Linked DNA regions of Homo sapiens: region 2 is linked to region 1. A link means that fine-mapping ties the variant in region 1 to the expression of a gene that starts in the linked region. Tissue or cell type: left ventricle. Region 1 holds a variant in brackets; the other region holds the start of a gene. All regions are shown on one strand. Distances are from middle to middle.

Region 1 (8,186 bases):
TGACCTTGAATAAGTTACTCAATTTCCCTGGACCTTCTTCTTTTCTGTCAAAATGTGATGATAATATCTGTGTCATGGTTGTTGGGGCAAGAGAGTTATAAAGGTTCAACGAGGCAATTAATGTAAACTGCTTAGTACATCGTCTGGAATGATAATTTACAAATGGCATGTGGTATAATTGTTTGTAACCTTGTCATCAGCTCAGATTTCCCTGACCAATGGAGATTCAGACAAAACTCTCTAGAACTTTAAATTATGCTGCAATGATCCCCAAAATTCCTGCAGATTCTGGAGGCTTAGTCTCAAGTGGACAATCTTCCCATTTTCCCTCCATCCCCCCTCACTCCCAGGCCACTGGCTTTGTGCCTGCATGTGCTATTTCTGTTTCACTTTGCACCCACCTGGACGTGAATCCCAGCTCAGAGGAGCGATTTTACACTATTCAGATGCTGACAAGGTAGAACAGTTCTCATGCTTCAATACTCATTTTAGTACTTCGACTTCCAAATTTTTCCTTCTAATTCAGAAATGTTCACTCAAATTTTCTGTAAGGCCAGATCAAGAATGTGAAATAAAGAAAATTCAGCACATGGTACTATGGTTGAGTAGTCTCTTCTTGGGCAGCTTTCCAGTGAGAACATGTTCATTTTTATCCTTAAGGAGGTAAATTACTTTGTTATTTTATAAAAATCACCATTCACCCAATTATTGACCCAGACCCTCGGTTCAAAAACAAGAGCAGGATGTGTGTTTGTGTGTGTGTGTGTGTGATTTTTCACACTTTGATATTTTTAATAGAAAATTTAAAACATAAGCAAAAGTAGAGAGAATAATGTAATGAGTTAATGAACCCCCGTATGCCATCACCCAGCGTAGGGAAGAATCAGCTCATGCCCAGTCTTATTTTATCTCTGCTTCCCCACACCACACTAGCCACCCCGTTCAACCCAAATGGATTCTTTTGAGGCAGATCCAAGGCAGCAAACCATTTTGTCCATAACGATGTCCATATGTATTGGTAAATGATAAGAACTCTTCTTAAAAACTAAAACCACATAACCATTATCATACTTAAAAATAGATGACATTCAAATTTCTCTAATTGTATTATTTTTTTCCTTTTTTATTTTTTGAGAGTTGGTTTGTTTCAACATTCTTTTGAATTTTTTTTTTAATGTACAGGTTTCTTCTCTCCTTTGTTTTTCAGTTTATATATGGAAGAAGCAGAGGCATTGTCCTGCAGTTTCTCACATTTGGTATTTTGCTGATTGCAACCCTGAAGTGCATTTCATCTGCAACCGTTTTTTTCTGACCAGCGTTTCTTATAAATGCTAGACTCTAGAATTGGAAGTTTGAGCTGATTCAAGTCCAACTTATTTGCCAAGAATCCTCCATTAGAAGTATCGCATACTTCTCTTAGGAGACGCATACGGACCAGTTGTCTCTGTGATGCAGCAGCTGCTGATGGTCTTTGTTTACATCCATTATTTCAGTAGGGGTTGCAAAATGGCAATATTTTAATTCTATCATTCCTTAATTTATTATTTGAGAGACTTACATAAAGAGAAACTTTACCTTGAAAAATTACCCTGATACACTGTTTATACAGCAAGGACAGGCAAAACCCTTGATTCCTGCCCCGTATTTTCATGTTTATAATGTGGTTCCCTGGCATCCACTAAAGGTGGTCAGTGAGTATTTGCTGTCAAGTGTAATTATGATCTCATGGATTTTAACACATTTGATTTGTTTAAATTCATCAAAGTCATTGTTCTTACTTGTTCTCAAATTTTTCCATACTTTCCAAGTGATAGCCACTTAATTTTGGCTTCTAAATGCTTCGAAACAATCACAGTTTTTAGTAAATTCCTTGGTGTCTGGTATGTCAAATGTGCTAGGCACATGTACTTTTCCTGCCCCAGAACTATGGTCAGCAATTTCTCCAAGGAGGCTTGATTCCTTTAAATATCATTTTCCAATGATTTTTCAAAATTATAGGGCCAGGCCCAGCATTTTGGGAGGCTAAGGCAGGCGGATCACTAGGTCAGGAGTTTGAGACTAGCCTGACCAACATGGTGAAACCCCGTCTTTACTAAAAATACAAAAATTAGCTGGGTGTGGTGGCACATGTCTGTAATCCCAGCTACTTGGGAGGCTGAGGCAGGAGAATCACTTGAACCTGGGAGGCGGAGGTTGTGGTGAGCTGAGATTGTGCCACTGCACCCCCCAGCCTGGGCAACAAGAGTGAAACTCTGTCTCAAAAAAAAAAAAAAAAAAAATTATAAGCTGGCTTTAGGGCTGCCCATTGCTTAAGAATTGGTCATTGTTCCCAGCTTTTTTCAGTGGACAGAATTGAAAACACTACTTTAAAGAAAATGCATCGTGAGTTCATACTAATATTTTGAACTTGAATTTAGTATCACAGCGTTTTTTAAAATTTAGCTCCTTTGATTTTATATTTATCTATCTTCTCTCTTCTACCTAAAATCTTGGTTGCAGACAATATTAACATAATTACTTACTTGCCTTACTATATATATTTTAGAATAATTAATATTGATATCATTGCTAAAAGTGTGATTTCTGAAAACAGTGTAAGATTTCTTTTTGTTTTTGTTTTTGTTTTTTGAGACAAAGTCTCGCTCTGTGGTCAGGCTGGAGTGCAGTGGCACAATCTCAGCTCACTGCAACCTCTGCCTCCCGGGTTCAAGCGATCCTCCTGCCTCAGCCTCCCAAGTAGCTGGGACTATAGGCGTGCACCACCACGGCCAGCTAATTTTTTATATTATTAGTAGAGACGAGGTTTCACCATGTTGGCCAGGATGGTCTCAATCTCTTGACTTCATCATCTGCCTGCCTCAGCCTCCCAAATTGCTGGCATTACAGGCATGAGCCACCACGCTTGGACAACAGTCTAAGATTTTTCTAGGTAAATTTTGGTATCTGACTGTGTACTCTTCTAGGTCTCTTATGCTATTCTGGAATCAAATTGATTACCGGAAAGCTATATCCTGGATGGATCTCATTAACTAACACTGCTATGGAAAGTCTTTACTCAGTTGCCCTTTAATGTTCCGTCCTTTGCTTTCATCAAGGGCGGACATAGAAAAATGCCAATACAGAGAATGTCTCCATATCTTCTACACAATCACTGCAAAGAGATTTCCTCTTATATTGTCAACCTGAATGACAGAGAAATGCTTTCTAAAATAAAATATTTATTTGGGTATAGATCATTGCAATGGGAATATGCCTGCCATAGTAAACTATGCATGGATTCAGGGAGGTAAAGAAAGACAAAGGTTTTTAAAGGAAAAAATGAGGAGGATTACATAATTATTTGGAAATGATTATACTTGACCATAAAGATTAATAACAAGGGTGATCCCAATGCAGTTGAACAGGCAGTTGCTGGGCAGATATCCTTGTAGAAGTATTTTTTGTGTAAGGTTGCAGTGGCCATTGTGCAAGATTGTGGTTTTTGAGGCTTTTGTGATAGTTTTGTTATTAGGCATACAAGCATGAGAACCTGTCTTCATGGTCTTCCACAGGCCTATTTGTCAGGGTTTGTTTTGATTTTTAACAGTGCCAACTCCATTTTGATTCTGGCAATTTCACAATTGTTAGGTGAATCTAGAATTGGTTTGATTTGATCCAGATACAATGCTTTCGGCAAGAATCCTTCCTAAGTAGCATTTCATATCTAGGAGGAGGCACACAATGACCAGCTGTCTCTCTTTCTGTGAGGTAGCAGCCATGGATGACCCTTGCCTAGACTTACTTCCATAGAGGTTTGTGAAATGATAATATTTTAATTTTATTGCCCTCTCTTCGTTTATTAGCTGGAGGATTTCTAGAAGAGAAACTTTTCCTCATGATCCACAGCCCATGGCAAACATGATTGAAGCCTGGAAAAGCTAAGGAAAGTGATCACCAGTTGCCTTCCCCAATCTTAGGAGAAACTTAGTGACTCCAGGCAGCGTCTGAAATGGAGACCAATGTATTTAGACAGTGCCGTCTGGGGGAATTTATGTAAATATGCCGCAGAGGGATAAGAGCATAAGAGTTAATAGGGCTGGTTTAACATTGCCTACTTGAATATTAGAGTTTGCCCCAAGCAACGATTTTAGTTTTGGCATAAATTCTTCCAATTCTTTTTTAGACTGTTGTAAAACAGAGTCAGTTACCTACGAAGGCCTCTTCTGGTTGGTAGCAGTAAAGCCACCACAAGGGCAAGTGATGAGAGAAGGGCATGGCCACGGTGTCGGGGTAGAGGTGGTGACTAGGACATCGCATAGATTAGGAACAGCCTTCACAGTGGCAACGGTTGTGAGTCAGCATGCCTGATTCAAATCCTGGCTTTGTCACCTGCCAGCTATGTGAACTTGAGCAAGATATTTGACTTCCCTGAGCCTCAGATTCCTCAACTGTAAATGGGGATTGGCGATTTGACTTGCCTTTCAGATTTGTGCACATTAGAGATAACATAAGCCAAACACTTTGCCCAGTGCCTGGCACAGAACAGACGTCAGCTAACTAGAGGTCA[C/GC]AAAGTAACTGTTTAATTAAATAGTTAAGTGAAAATTGAGCCCACCCCTAAATCCAATACATGAACATTTCTGGTGGCAAAGTAACCTGTGAGTCTTTAAACTAACTTTAGATAGACTCTATGCAATTCGGCTATAAGTGTGCAAGTTTCCCGCTGCGAAGGGTTCTAGACTTCACAAAATATGAAGACATTGCTGCAGAATTATAAAGTCAGGGCAATGATTTAGTGGCTACCTACAGGAATCAGAGTTCCCACCGTGCTTCCCAAAGCCATTTGCTGAGAAATATTAATAGTACGACAAAATCATGTTCACTGTGATGTCTAGTGACCCATCTTAAGGTCTCTCACTGAAGCTTGCTGTATTTTATTTTTTAAAATAGAAACTTGTAAGAGGATCTGAACTTGACTTTCTGTGGCTTTCTCTGTATTTGGTCTGGTATGTTAATGACACCAGGTTTTAATTTTAGCTTCCTAACGGCCTAGGTAATAGCACGAGATAGGGTGATCGGCCACCAGTTGCTTAGGCTTGTGACAGATAAGGCTAACTGCTATCAGTTTCTGGTCTGAGTGTGGGTGGAAGATGAATGAAAAATACTTTTAAGTCAGGGCAAGTAGAGCTGAAAGGCTCTTTAGAAAAGTAATTTATAGAAAATGTTGGAATCTCCTCTTTATACCTTCAACATGTACTGAAATAACTTGGTACCGTTTTTAGACAAACAGGGTTCAGATCTCCCTAACAAAGACCTGTAATCCACCTTAGTTTTTACTTCCTTGGTTGGGCCATTATATTTATGAGCCCAAACAGACAGAGGAGGGGTGTGATATCGAGGGTCCACATTAGAATTCCCAAACCCATATTGGTGAAGAATATCAAGGCCAAAGAATAGCCTTGGAATTGGGATTCAGTCCCAATTTGCCAGTCTCTAAATTTTTGGTCTTAAATAGTGTTATGCCCAACCCCTATTAATCTTATAGGGATTCAGGGTTCGAAAACCTCTGGCACAAGATTCAAGAGGCTGAAGAGCCCCAGAGCCAGCAAATGAGACATGGGATTTTACTGCGGGTTCACATGCAGGGGGACAGGGTCCAGCAGCAGTGGGCTATACAGGAGAAGTGCAACTACTTGCAAAAAGCATCAGTTTATACAACATTTTCACTTAACACCCTCCCCTAACAACCTCCATCTGGCAACCTTCATTAAACCCAAAACAAAGGACCTCCATCCCCAGTATGGCCCATGTTCCATGGGATGGGGGCGGAGGGTGGAAGGTGCGGTGGGAGATGCTCAGATGTTCCTCATAGACAAGGAACCAATCTCCGCGTTGACCACTCCCGGATTCCCGAGCTCAGAACACACATTGAGGTGCATCTGCCCTGCAGGAGCATGCTCAGATTATGCTTAAGTTATTGCTGTCAGGTGTGTCTACCTTAAAACCAATATGCCTTAAAGAATACCAGCCTAATTATTAGGGAGCTGAATCAAGATTGGGAGAAATAAGTTCTCATTGCCCATGTCAAGCTCAGGAAATATGCCATTGACACTGAGTCCCATGGGACTGGGTCCCTGGTAATTCTTTTTTTTATTTTTTATTTTTTTACTTTTACTTTTGGTAATTCTTTCTATACTTCTTTGCTTTGTGACCAGAAAAGAAAAGGAACCTGTATTCCAGCGATATAAAAAAAATGATTTCAAAAAGTCCAAGGTCCTTACAGACCATGTTAAATTCCAGAACAAAGATCAGCAGGTCAGCATTGCTGTATTGGGAGCCACTTTCTACCCTGGTCCTGAAGAGGATTTTCAATATTGAGGGAGGGTACATTTTAGAAAGTCCACTGAATCGAGATAATTCAGTTATTGCTGGGGGCAAGGTACTCCTGGCATTATGCACAACTCTGAATAGTACCGGTTGGCTACCCCTGGCTTGTCTGAGTTGAGCCGAGCTACACTGAAGTTAACCACTTCCTCAGTAGCTGTGGGAGAGGATGCCTGCCTCCTGGACAGCTGAAAGAGAGCAGCTGCATTTGAGGGGGTCAGGTGGTGCTATTGCTCTGTAACGGGGGTCAGGTGGTGCTATTGCTCTGTAACAAGGGAAATGGGGAGGAAATATAAAGGGATATCAGCTGGAGCGGAGCTGTGGCGGGAAACGCTATAGGGGATAAAGTGGTGGGTATTACTGGTTCATGAAAATGCTACCTAAGCAGGCTTTTCAGCGAAGGCAGGATTCCCAACCATATAAAGCTCAGAAAGATCGAGTGGGAGGGGCGACTGGTGAGCATGTAATCACGGTGGAAGTATGATATTTTGGCTGTGGATCTGAGTTGATCAATCTGCTTAGTGGACTTGAGTCCCCCCACCCCCGCTTGTCTGATTGGGGCTCCTGGGAGGTAAGTAGAGCTGGGCAGGAGGCTCACTCAGCGGCTGCTACGGGAGCTTTGCCGAGGGTAGCAGCTCAGGCTTTATTCTTATTATTTTTTGAATCAGATCCGGATTCAAATCTGAGAGAATCGATTTGTATCTTCTTTGCTCCTGTATTTATTTATTTGTAAAGTAGTAAAAATACCTTCCCGTGTTGCTGTGAAGATTGAGATGCAGAGCAAAATTGCTTGGTAGAGGGTAGACACCAAGCCAGCAGTTCTCAACCTCGGCTGCACGTTGGAACCAAGGGAAACTTTAAGAATGACTGCTGCCAGGCTTCACCAAAGACCAGTCAAATCACAATCCCAGTGGCTCTATGCGGCCAGCGTTGAGAACCCCTGTACTAAAAACTTATTTGTACTGAGAAAAACCTCTCTTTAGAGATAAAGAAGAGGAGTGGAGTTTGGATAACTTCTAGTCAAGTATTGTGTAGTTAACTACCATTGATTTTCTTTAGTATAAAGTGGTAACTTAGAAGAAGTACAGCTACCTCTGTCCTGTAAATCCCTTTAGATATAGTCCTGGTTCTAGGCAATTCCCTTTGTTTCTCATACTTAGGAGAGCAGACTTGGGAAGATCTGAGAATTAAAAAAAAAAAAAAAACAAACCCTCTGGAGCCCTCCCTTTTTGAGAAGCTGGTCTATCTAATCAGGTTTAAAGCAGGAGCATGTGGGCTAAGTGAGACTCCAGCAAGGAAGTGAGGGTCCTCCGCCGGCCTCCTCCCAGGCCTCCTTAGAAGGGATCTGACGCTGGCTGAGGCTCATTGATAGAGCCAGATGGTCTCTCCCAAGCAGGGCTTCTGTTCTCCCCTCCTCCTCCACTGCACTGTGGGCTGCTCCTGTGGACCACCCAAGGCAAGGGAATTACACAGATTGCAGATGTGAGCTTTCATTTCCTGTGTTTCCTCCTGTAGCTATTGGAAAATTCTAGTTTGAAGATAACATGGCTTTTCCAGAAACTCCTGGATTGTTCCTGAGACCAGGCCCAATGTAATCCTGAGTGGGAAAACTAAAGGGAGGAGAATTTGGCCTCCTTGTCTCCTGAGTTACTAGGTTTAGTCATGTAGAAAGAAAATAGTCTTCGTTCAGGCAGGCAGTTGAGTCAAGTTTATCTAGGGCTGAACTGCCTGGGCTGAGACACTATCAGAGGGGCTGAGGGGCCATTATGCCCACATTGTCATTTTCTACTTTATCCAGGGCAAAGATAATCTTTGTGTACTGAAAT
Region 2 (8,186 bases), 43 kb before region 1:
TTCTTTAGGAGGCTCCTCCCAGCCTACTAAGATACATTCTGCACTTACTCTGCAAGCTTTTAGAAGGAAGGGCTCTAGCTATCTCTGCCACTGGCACTCTCCAGGCCTGCAGCAGGCTGGGCCAATGGAGGGAAGGAGGGGTGATAGCTAAGAATTTTTTCAATGGAAAATTCAATCTGCTCAGCAGGAGTCTGATGAGAAGCTGGGGGCTGGTCTGGGGAGGATGCAGCTGGAGGGGCTGTCCATCTGGATCTCACAGGCCTCTGGATGCTGACACGTTATTCTTAGCCATCTTTTCTTCTGTCTTTATTTTCTTGTAATCAGGCCTCTCTTGAATTTGCGATTGAAGGCTTTTTTATCCCCCTTCTCTAAAGCAATGATTTTCCATATAGTAATTCTTTCCTTCTTTAGACTTCCCAAAGTTGGTGGGTGGTTCTTTTTGTGCTCAGACACTTTGCAAATTGCTTCCCACCCAGCTCCTCCCCTGAATGTTTTTGTGGCTGGTGGAGACCTATGATGTGTGCTGGGTATTTGGCCTCCATCTTCTTGTTTACAACAACCTCCTTGCTAATGATATTTTCCTAGTAACATCTAATATGAGCATATTTCTCGCCCATCCTCCCTCCACCCCATGTGTCTTGAATTCTGCTGGATTAATTTAGCTGGAGCCTTAAGAGGCAGCAAAACCGAGGGCAGGTGGCTAAGCTTCAATCCTTGGCTCCTGCGTCATAATCATAATCACTCTTATTGACATAGTGCTCCGTGGTTAACAAGCACTTCCACATTCCATAGCTCTTTAGTCCTCAGAACAGCAGAAGCCAAGGCCTCTGGGGCTTGGTGACATCCCCAGCATCACATGCATAAGAGGAAAGGCCTGGATTTGAACCTCCTTTTCTGATGTTAAATCCCCTACCATTTCTTTCAGCCCAGGCAAAGATCCCAAAGTCAAATGCCTTTAGGGGCCAGGTAGATAGTATAAATGAAACTGCTTGGAGTAGAATATATTAAGGATTAGTAAGGATTGTGGGAAACTGGCCGGCATGCTTTGCCTAAAGGCATTAAAATGCAAAACAGAGCCCAGCACCTATAGTCCCAGTAACTCAGGAGGCTGAAGCTGGAGGATCACTTGAGCCTGGGAGTGGTGAGGCCAGCCTGGGCAACATAGCAAGATTCTGTCTCTCAAAAAACATACAAAAAGAAAGAAAGAAAGAAAAAAAGAAACATTTAAAAAATAATAGGAAAAAACCCATTTAATTTATTTCTTACTCAGTGTTTAGTCTATAATCTACCTCCTTGTTGGGAAAGGGAGAACGTTTGCATGGTGTCCCCTTTACCACTGAGTAGCATTTACTTGATGGCTTGGGCAAGCATGACCTTGGTTGTAGTAAGTCTATAGTATAGATGATTCTGTTGCTTTTAGATTCTGTTGCTTTTGGAATAGAATTACAGCTTTTAGAATAGTATAATGGACCCAGGCATGTACAGATCCTGAGCCTACCCATCATCTCTCCTCTCTTAGAGTTTTCAAGACATGGTATTCAAAGTAATATTATCTTAATGTCTGTGCAAGTCCCAGATGCCCTTATTTACAACCCTGGTCAAAGGTCCTATTCTTTCCCTACGTCTTTCCTTCCTTTCTCATCCTATTTGAAATCATGGGAACTGGTTGCTCAAGTCTACATGCTAAGTGACAGTGACAGTGGCAGAGTAGTAGGCAGAGTCCCCAAACAGACCCCAACTTCACCTTCTGCCCTAGGGCAGGGATGTGGAGAAAAGAGAGAGGAAAGGATGGCTCATGCCTTTAAGTAGAGTAACTCGGCCCACTAGGAACAGGTGGCCCAGTGAAGGTCATGGGCTTTGGCCAATCAGACAAAAACTTCTCCTTTGAGGGTTTTAGGAAGGTGGTAGGCCAAGGTGGGGCTAGTATGGGAATGAGGACTGACGTATATCCCCTACTCTAAATAGAACAGCAGTTAAGACTGTGGCCCCAGAGAGTACACATCTGCCACCTAACCACCCTGTGACCCTGGGCTGGTTATTTAACCCTCATTCCTCAGCACCTTTCCCCATAGAATATGGGTAACTGTAGGGGTGATGCGGATTAGCTGAGATAGGCATGCATTTTGGTAAGTAAATGTGAGTTATTTTTGTTGCTTTGAATTCTGCCTCTTTGCTATACTCTTGAGCTACTCATTGTAGCTAGAAACTGAGGAAGCCTTCAAATGCTGGCAGAAAGAATATGGAGAGAATAATTCATAGAACAAAAGACAACTTTCTGCCAATTTTTCCTCTTCAAAACTTGCCACTTACCCAAATGCCCTGATTCTACCTTTTCTCTCCAGCTCCACACCCTCAAGATGATCCCAGTGAGCTGGAATCCTGGTCGAGGGATCTGAGACTTGGCTAGATGAGATTTGGCGCTCAGATGTGCTTTTTGTGAAGTATAACTATGATTTTTCTCTAAATAATTACTCAAACTTAACTTTTAGTCAAGACTCTTCTTAAGTAGTGTTCTTGTTTGTGTTCATGTGGCTTCTTGTGAGACAGACAATTTAAAAAATTTAAAAATTGTTCTATTATCCAAACACAACATTGCTGTGTGCCCCTTCCCTTTCCCCAGTCCCTGGAGTTCATTTTCTTTTGTATGTTTCACATATACCAATGACAAATAGTTCATAGTAGATATTGCCTAGGTATGGAATTAGTTTTTTTTTTGTTTGTTTTGTTTGTTTGTTTTGAGATGGAGTCTTGCTGTGTCGCCCAGGCTGGAGTGCAATGGCACGATCTCGGCTCACTGCAACCTCTGCCTCCCAGGTTCAAGCGATTCTCCCGCCTCAGCCTCCTGAGTAGCTGGGATTACAGGCATCCACCACCATGCCCGGCTATTTTTTTGTATTTTTAGTAGAGACAGGGTTTCATTACGTTGGCCAGGCTGGTCTTGAACTCCTGACCTCGTGATCCACCCACCTCAGCCTCCCAAAGTGCTAGGATTACAGGCGTGAGCCACTGTGCCTGGCCAGAATTAGGTTTTTATAAATGTGAAGTATTAGATTCTTATCAATCGGCAAAAGTAGAACTGAGGAACTATATCATATGCTTATAAACTGATTTCTTCTTAGTTTTTACTCCTATGATGTTTCTGTTGAGACCAGTTGACAGAGTAGGAGTGTCAGTATGGAAAAAGCATGGATCATTTTGAAACATGGATTATTCATCAATTACATGTGTTTTAGAATGGAGTCAGTGATATACTCTTGGAGATGATCTCCCCCACCCCCCATCTCCTCTCCTTTTCCTTTCCCCACATCTGTAGCCACTTCCTGTCAGCGAAACCCAGAAGAAAAACTTGACAGAAGCAAAGGGCATCCAGAGAATTATGATCCCCAGGTTGTAGTTCCAGTTCTGTCATGTCCTAAGCGGTCATCTCCTCTCTGGGTCTCAGGTTTCTTATGTATAAGATAAGTAGGAGATTGGGGCCACAACACCTGAGACTAAAGGAATTCTAAGTTTTCATTACTCTATGGATTCCACCTTTGCTAGCTTGGGACCTGGCAGGTCTCAGCAGCTGGTCATGTAGCTAATTCTCAAAGCAGATAAATGCCTGCAGGATAACTGTGAATTGACTCTAATCACAGCAGAGTCCAGCTGCTTCAATAGATGCTGGTGCCTTTGGCTGCTTCCCGGAGCCACCAGCCAACCCAGAGTTGAAGCTGGCTGGAAAAGCAGATATGTTGGAGAGGCCAGCATCATCTCTAAACACAGCATCTGGGAAATACCCATGTCCCCAGAAAGAGGTCATTGAAATCCTTCACTTGGTGGTGCAGTGCAGAGACTCAGGAAAACCAGGCTTTGAGTCCTGACCCTGCCACTTATACCAGCGGTGTGACCTTGGGCAAATTCTCTGGCCCTATGTTATCTTCCTCCTCCATACAATGAGGGTAGAAATAGAGCCACCTTGCAGAAGTATAGTAAGGATTAAGGTCCCAGGAGGCCTAACAGTACCTACTAAGCAGAGGTCCTCAGAGGTACTTAATAAATGGTAGTAGTAGTTATTATCCTGTGCCCTTTGTTCACAGGAGTCTCTTACAGGGGTGTTGGTCTCAGTGCTCCTCCCCATGGCCAGGCTGTATTGGCTCATGCCCAAGGCGTAGCCTTGCCAGGGAGCCTGGTACAGAGATGCTGCTGATTGGGATGCTGATTAAATTCCCTGATTGAGGAGCCTCAGCATTCTGGCCCAGAGCAGGAGGGCCAGCAATATTTAGCACAATCTGCTTGGATCCTCAATTAAATTGTTTTTCCAAACTGCCCTTTTCAAGGTCTTGTCCTCTTTCCTCACCTCTTTCTGGCCCCTTCTCTCTGGGTCCTTGCCAGAGAAGGGAAACAAAGCCTTGTGGGGCTCCATCTGCTTCCCCCTATCCAGAAGAAGGTGACAAGGCTGTCTTCGTTGCAGAAGATGTGGTTAAAACAAGCCTTGGCTATTCAAGGTGGCTGCAGTCTCATCCTGGAGGCTAAAGTCTCTGCGCATTCCAGGTTGATCTCTGTTTTCTTGGCAAAACTGAGTTCTCAACTCAAACCTGCCTCTCCCTTCCATCCTTTATCCCGACAGCTCGCAAGTGCTTTGCTGGGAAGGACGATTAAGTGTCACTTAGTGTATTTTTCCATTTTCCTGTGTTCATCTGGTAAAAAGAAAATAAAACAAAATAAAGGAGGCCCAGGATTGAACTGTCATTATTTTTTAAATGGAGAGAGAAGGGGTCACATGACTGCGAGTAACTGATTTAGCCAAGTGGCTGCAACTCCGAGTTTGCTGCAGAGCCGCCCCCTCCCGGCGGGGGCGCTGACGTCACGGAAAAGCCCCGCGGCGGGTCGGCTGGGCTGGTTATAAACCGCCCGGCCGCGGCGGCTGCAGGCGGCGGGCAAGGACGGCGGGCACAGCGCAGCACTCCCCGCTCGTTGGCCCGGGTATCCCAGCGCGGACCCACGCGATACGCTGACGCCCCGACGCCGATCCGGCCGAGCCAAGTAAGGGGGACGGCCCGAGACGGAGAAGGGAGAGAGTGGGAGTTTCCCAGCCCGCAGAACTTTCGAAGTTGAGAAAAGAACCCCTGGAACGTGCGCTCAGCACTGGGATTTTCTGGTAGGGGTCAGAGCTTCAAGTGCAAAGGATGTCGCTTCTCATCAGCAGGTTCCTTAGTTCAATTCGGTAGAAGGGTCACCTCCCTCTACAGATCGAGTGGTCAGAGAGGGCAGCCCTTAATGATGCTTTATGTATTTGTTGTTTGAATGTAAGTCTGCCAACTGAGGTGCTGCTTTTGAGACTAAAAAACCGGCTGGTCGTCCTGGTTAGTGGCGAGATGTTGGGGTACGGAGTGTGGGGGTGAGGGTGGGAGAGGAGTGTTTGTGCATCTTGCTGATTGCAACGTAAGTACTTATACTTTATCACCAGTAGCCGGAAAAACAGACCTCCCGGCTAGGGGAGGCAGTCTGCAAAGGGAAAGTTGTAGAGAAGTTGTTGAATATCATTTAGGGGAGTCTTCAGCCTTCTGATTTGCTTCAAGAAGGGGATCTGAGAATGGTGGCTCAGGCCTGTGATCTCAGCACTTTCGGAAGCCGAGGCAGGAGGATCACTTGACCCCAGGAGTTCGAGACCAGCCTGGGCAACATAGTGAGGCCACTGTCTCTACCAAAAAATAAAAATAAAAATAAAAAAACTAGTGGACGTGGTAGTGCAGGTCTGTAGTCCCAGCTACTTGGGAGGCTGAAGTGGAGGATCTCTTGAGCCTGGCAGTTGGAGGCTAGCTACAGTGAGCTATGATCGTGCCACTGCACTCCAGCCTGGGTGACAGAGCAAGACCCTGACTCAAAAAAGGAATCTGAGTTGAATTAAAGAACTCTTGAGAATGGATGTGGTTTTTTAAGAATGAGGCACTTTCTCTGCAAATTTCATAGGTCTGAACATGAGCAGGTCATTTCTCTGCCAGGGTGTCTAGGTTTGGAGCCGGGATGTTTTAAAAGTGGTATCTGTGGGTAAGAGGGCACAGCTGAGGCATAAACTTTAAACAGAAAATTTCCCCCCTACCCCCAATAATGGCAGGTGGATGCTCTCCAGGCAGCTGGAGAGCATCAAGGCAACTTTACTAAACATGGAAGTTCCAATAAGTGCCTGTCCAGTCCAGCCAGGGTTGCAGTGGGCAGGGGAGGGGAGGGTGATGTCATTGCCACGTGTTTCCCACTGAGGCACAAAACCTGCTGGACACTGGTGCAATTAAGAGCCAAGTTTAGACAAGAGCAGCTAACCTGACCAGCTGGTCCCCAGCAACATTAACTTGTTGCTTTTCAAGCCATCTTTGGAGTCTGCTGGTTCTTTCCAGCTGCCTTTGTGCCAGCTCTGAGTGCAGCTCTTCTTTCATCCAAGTCTGCTTTGAGGAAGGGGGAAGCCCATGGGCAGTGGGTGATGTTAACCGTATTTGTTTTCCCATGCAAATGATAGTCTGCCTGAGGAGCTGGTTACTGACAGTGTGGGCAGCATGTGTGTGTCCAGTTGAAAGCCTGTCTTGTTGGGGTTTGGGGGACTGTTTAATTGGTGGTCTTTATGTTAGGGATACTTGCTTCTCATCTCATCTAATAAAATATTACTGATGACTGACCATGTATTTGAGCGGAGCTCTCACTCATGCTTACTAATGCTGCCATCTTGGCTGCTTTGCTCCCCAGGACTCAACGATGACTCTGAATAATGTCACCATGCGCCAGGGCACTGTGGGCATGCAGCCACAGCAGCAGCGCTGGAGCATCCCAGCTGATGGCAGGCATCTGATGGTCCAGAAAGAGCCCCACCAGTACAGCCACCGCAACCGCCATTCTGCTACCCCTGAGGACCACTGCCGCCGAAGCTGGTCCTCTGACTCCACAGACTCAGTCATCTCCTCTGAGTCAGGGAACACCTACTACCGAGTGGTGCTCATAGGGGAGCAGGGGGTGGGCAAGTCCACTCTGGCCAACATCTTTGCAGGTGTGCATGACAGCATGGACAGCGACTGCGAGGTGCTGGGAGGTAGGTGTCCCAGCCCCAGTGGGCTTCTTTCCACCAGGGGTGGCCCAGGAAGAAAGAGTGAGGGTGGGTGACTTATTTACCCACAGAGTTGGGAGCTGAAGTTAGGCATTTTGGACAATTGATGGGGGAGCTGAGTCTCTAGAAAAGCCCAAGCACAGGCTTTCGGGCAAGAAAATGAAAATGCTTGTAGACAGGACCAAAATCTGTTGATCCTGGGCCAGAAAGGGAATTCTTCAGATTCCAATTCTAAATGGGTTGGGGAAGGCTGATTAGAGAGGGCAGAGCCAGAGGGTCAGCGCCCCACTTGACTTCTGCTGACTCTGACTTGAACATTCTTCCCGGAACTCAGTATAGACACAGCCTTTTTCCATGGTTATACCTAAAACAAGCCAGTTGGAAAAGCTGTTAGGATGGCTTGATCAGTTTGCTTCCACCAATATTAGAAAGTTTTGTGGGTGTTAAATAGTTCAAAATCTGTATTTGAAATAGCATAATAATTTTTTAAAATGTGAAGTATAACAATGAAACTTTCTATAGAGTCTGACAGCTTTTCAAGACAATTTTCCCTGTACAATTTCATCTATTTATTGATTGGAGCCTGGCCTATTTCCAAAACTGTTTTGAGGTGACATTATCTCAAAATGCATGTATTCTTCAGCTAGGGGTAAAGCACAGCCCTATGTTCTGCTAAGTAATATGAGGATCCTGATAGCCAATGCCATCCATAAAGTGTCTTTCAGCCACAGCTTCAGTCTGAGCGTATGCGACCAGGGTAGTTATATGTCCCTATTTGCAGCTACAGAAATAAAGGAAGCACTGCTCAGTGTTTCCCCAAGTCACATGGTCTGTGTTCTGTCGCGACTCACAACTGAATCACAGAGTAGGGAGGTGTCTTAGCGATGACTCAGTTCTCCCCTGCATTGATGCATATTAATGTTATTCCTCACTACCCACAGCCCATCTCATCTGGAGGTTTTATTCTTCTTGATTGTCTCAGTGTCAAGGAGTTCACTGCCTCATGAGGCAGCTCAGGAACTGGGCTATAAATAATGACTCATTGTTGTAACATTGATTTCTCTCCTCACTCCTGGAATCTCAGAAGAGTAAAGGGAGAAATAGGGCCAGTGTTGTA

Which allele goes with the higher level. Positions count from the first base shown, and alleles are read on the strand shown. Sizes are in standard deviations (SD) of each study's normalised expression.
As copies of C replace GC in region 1, the expression in left ventricle of the gene that starts at base 4,908 in region 2 goes down (small effect, 0.24 SD a copy in GTEx).

What was found. PIP is the estimated chance that this variant, and not a neighbour inherited with it, causes the effect.
Region 2: it holds the start of GEM, and the variant in region 1 is fine-mapped to the expression of GEM in left ventricle (GTEx, PIP above 0.99).

What each region holds. Positions count from the first base shown.
Region 1 is chr8:94,215,943-94,224,128 of GRCh38, reverse strand. It overlaps a transcript of CDH17 not described here. Among named protein-coding and RNA genes, the nearest start is that of CDH17, 11 kb to the right of the region's middle. The variant C/GC (reference allele first, on the strand shown) is at 4,547.
Region 2 is chr8:94,259,041-94,267,226 of GRCh38, reverse strand. It overlaps GEM (GTP binding protein overexpressed in skeletal muscle), which reads left to right and starts at 4,908. Exons shown (of 5, transcript NM_005261.4): 1 at 4,908-5,137; 2 at 6,715-7,054. The coding sequence starts at 6,724. RefSeq lists silencers at 5,597-5,666, 6,808-6,951.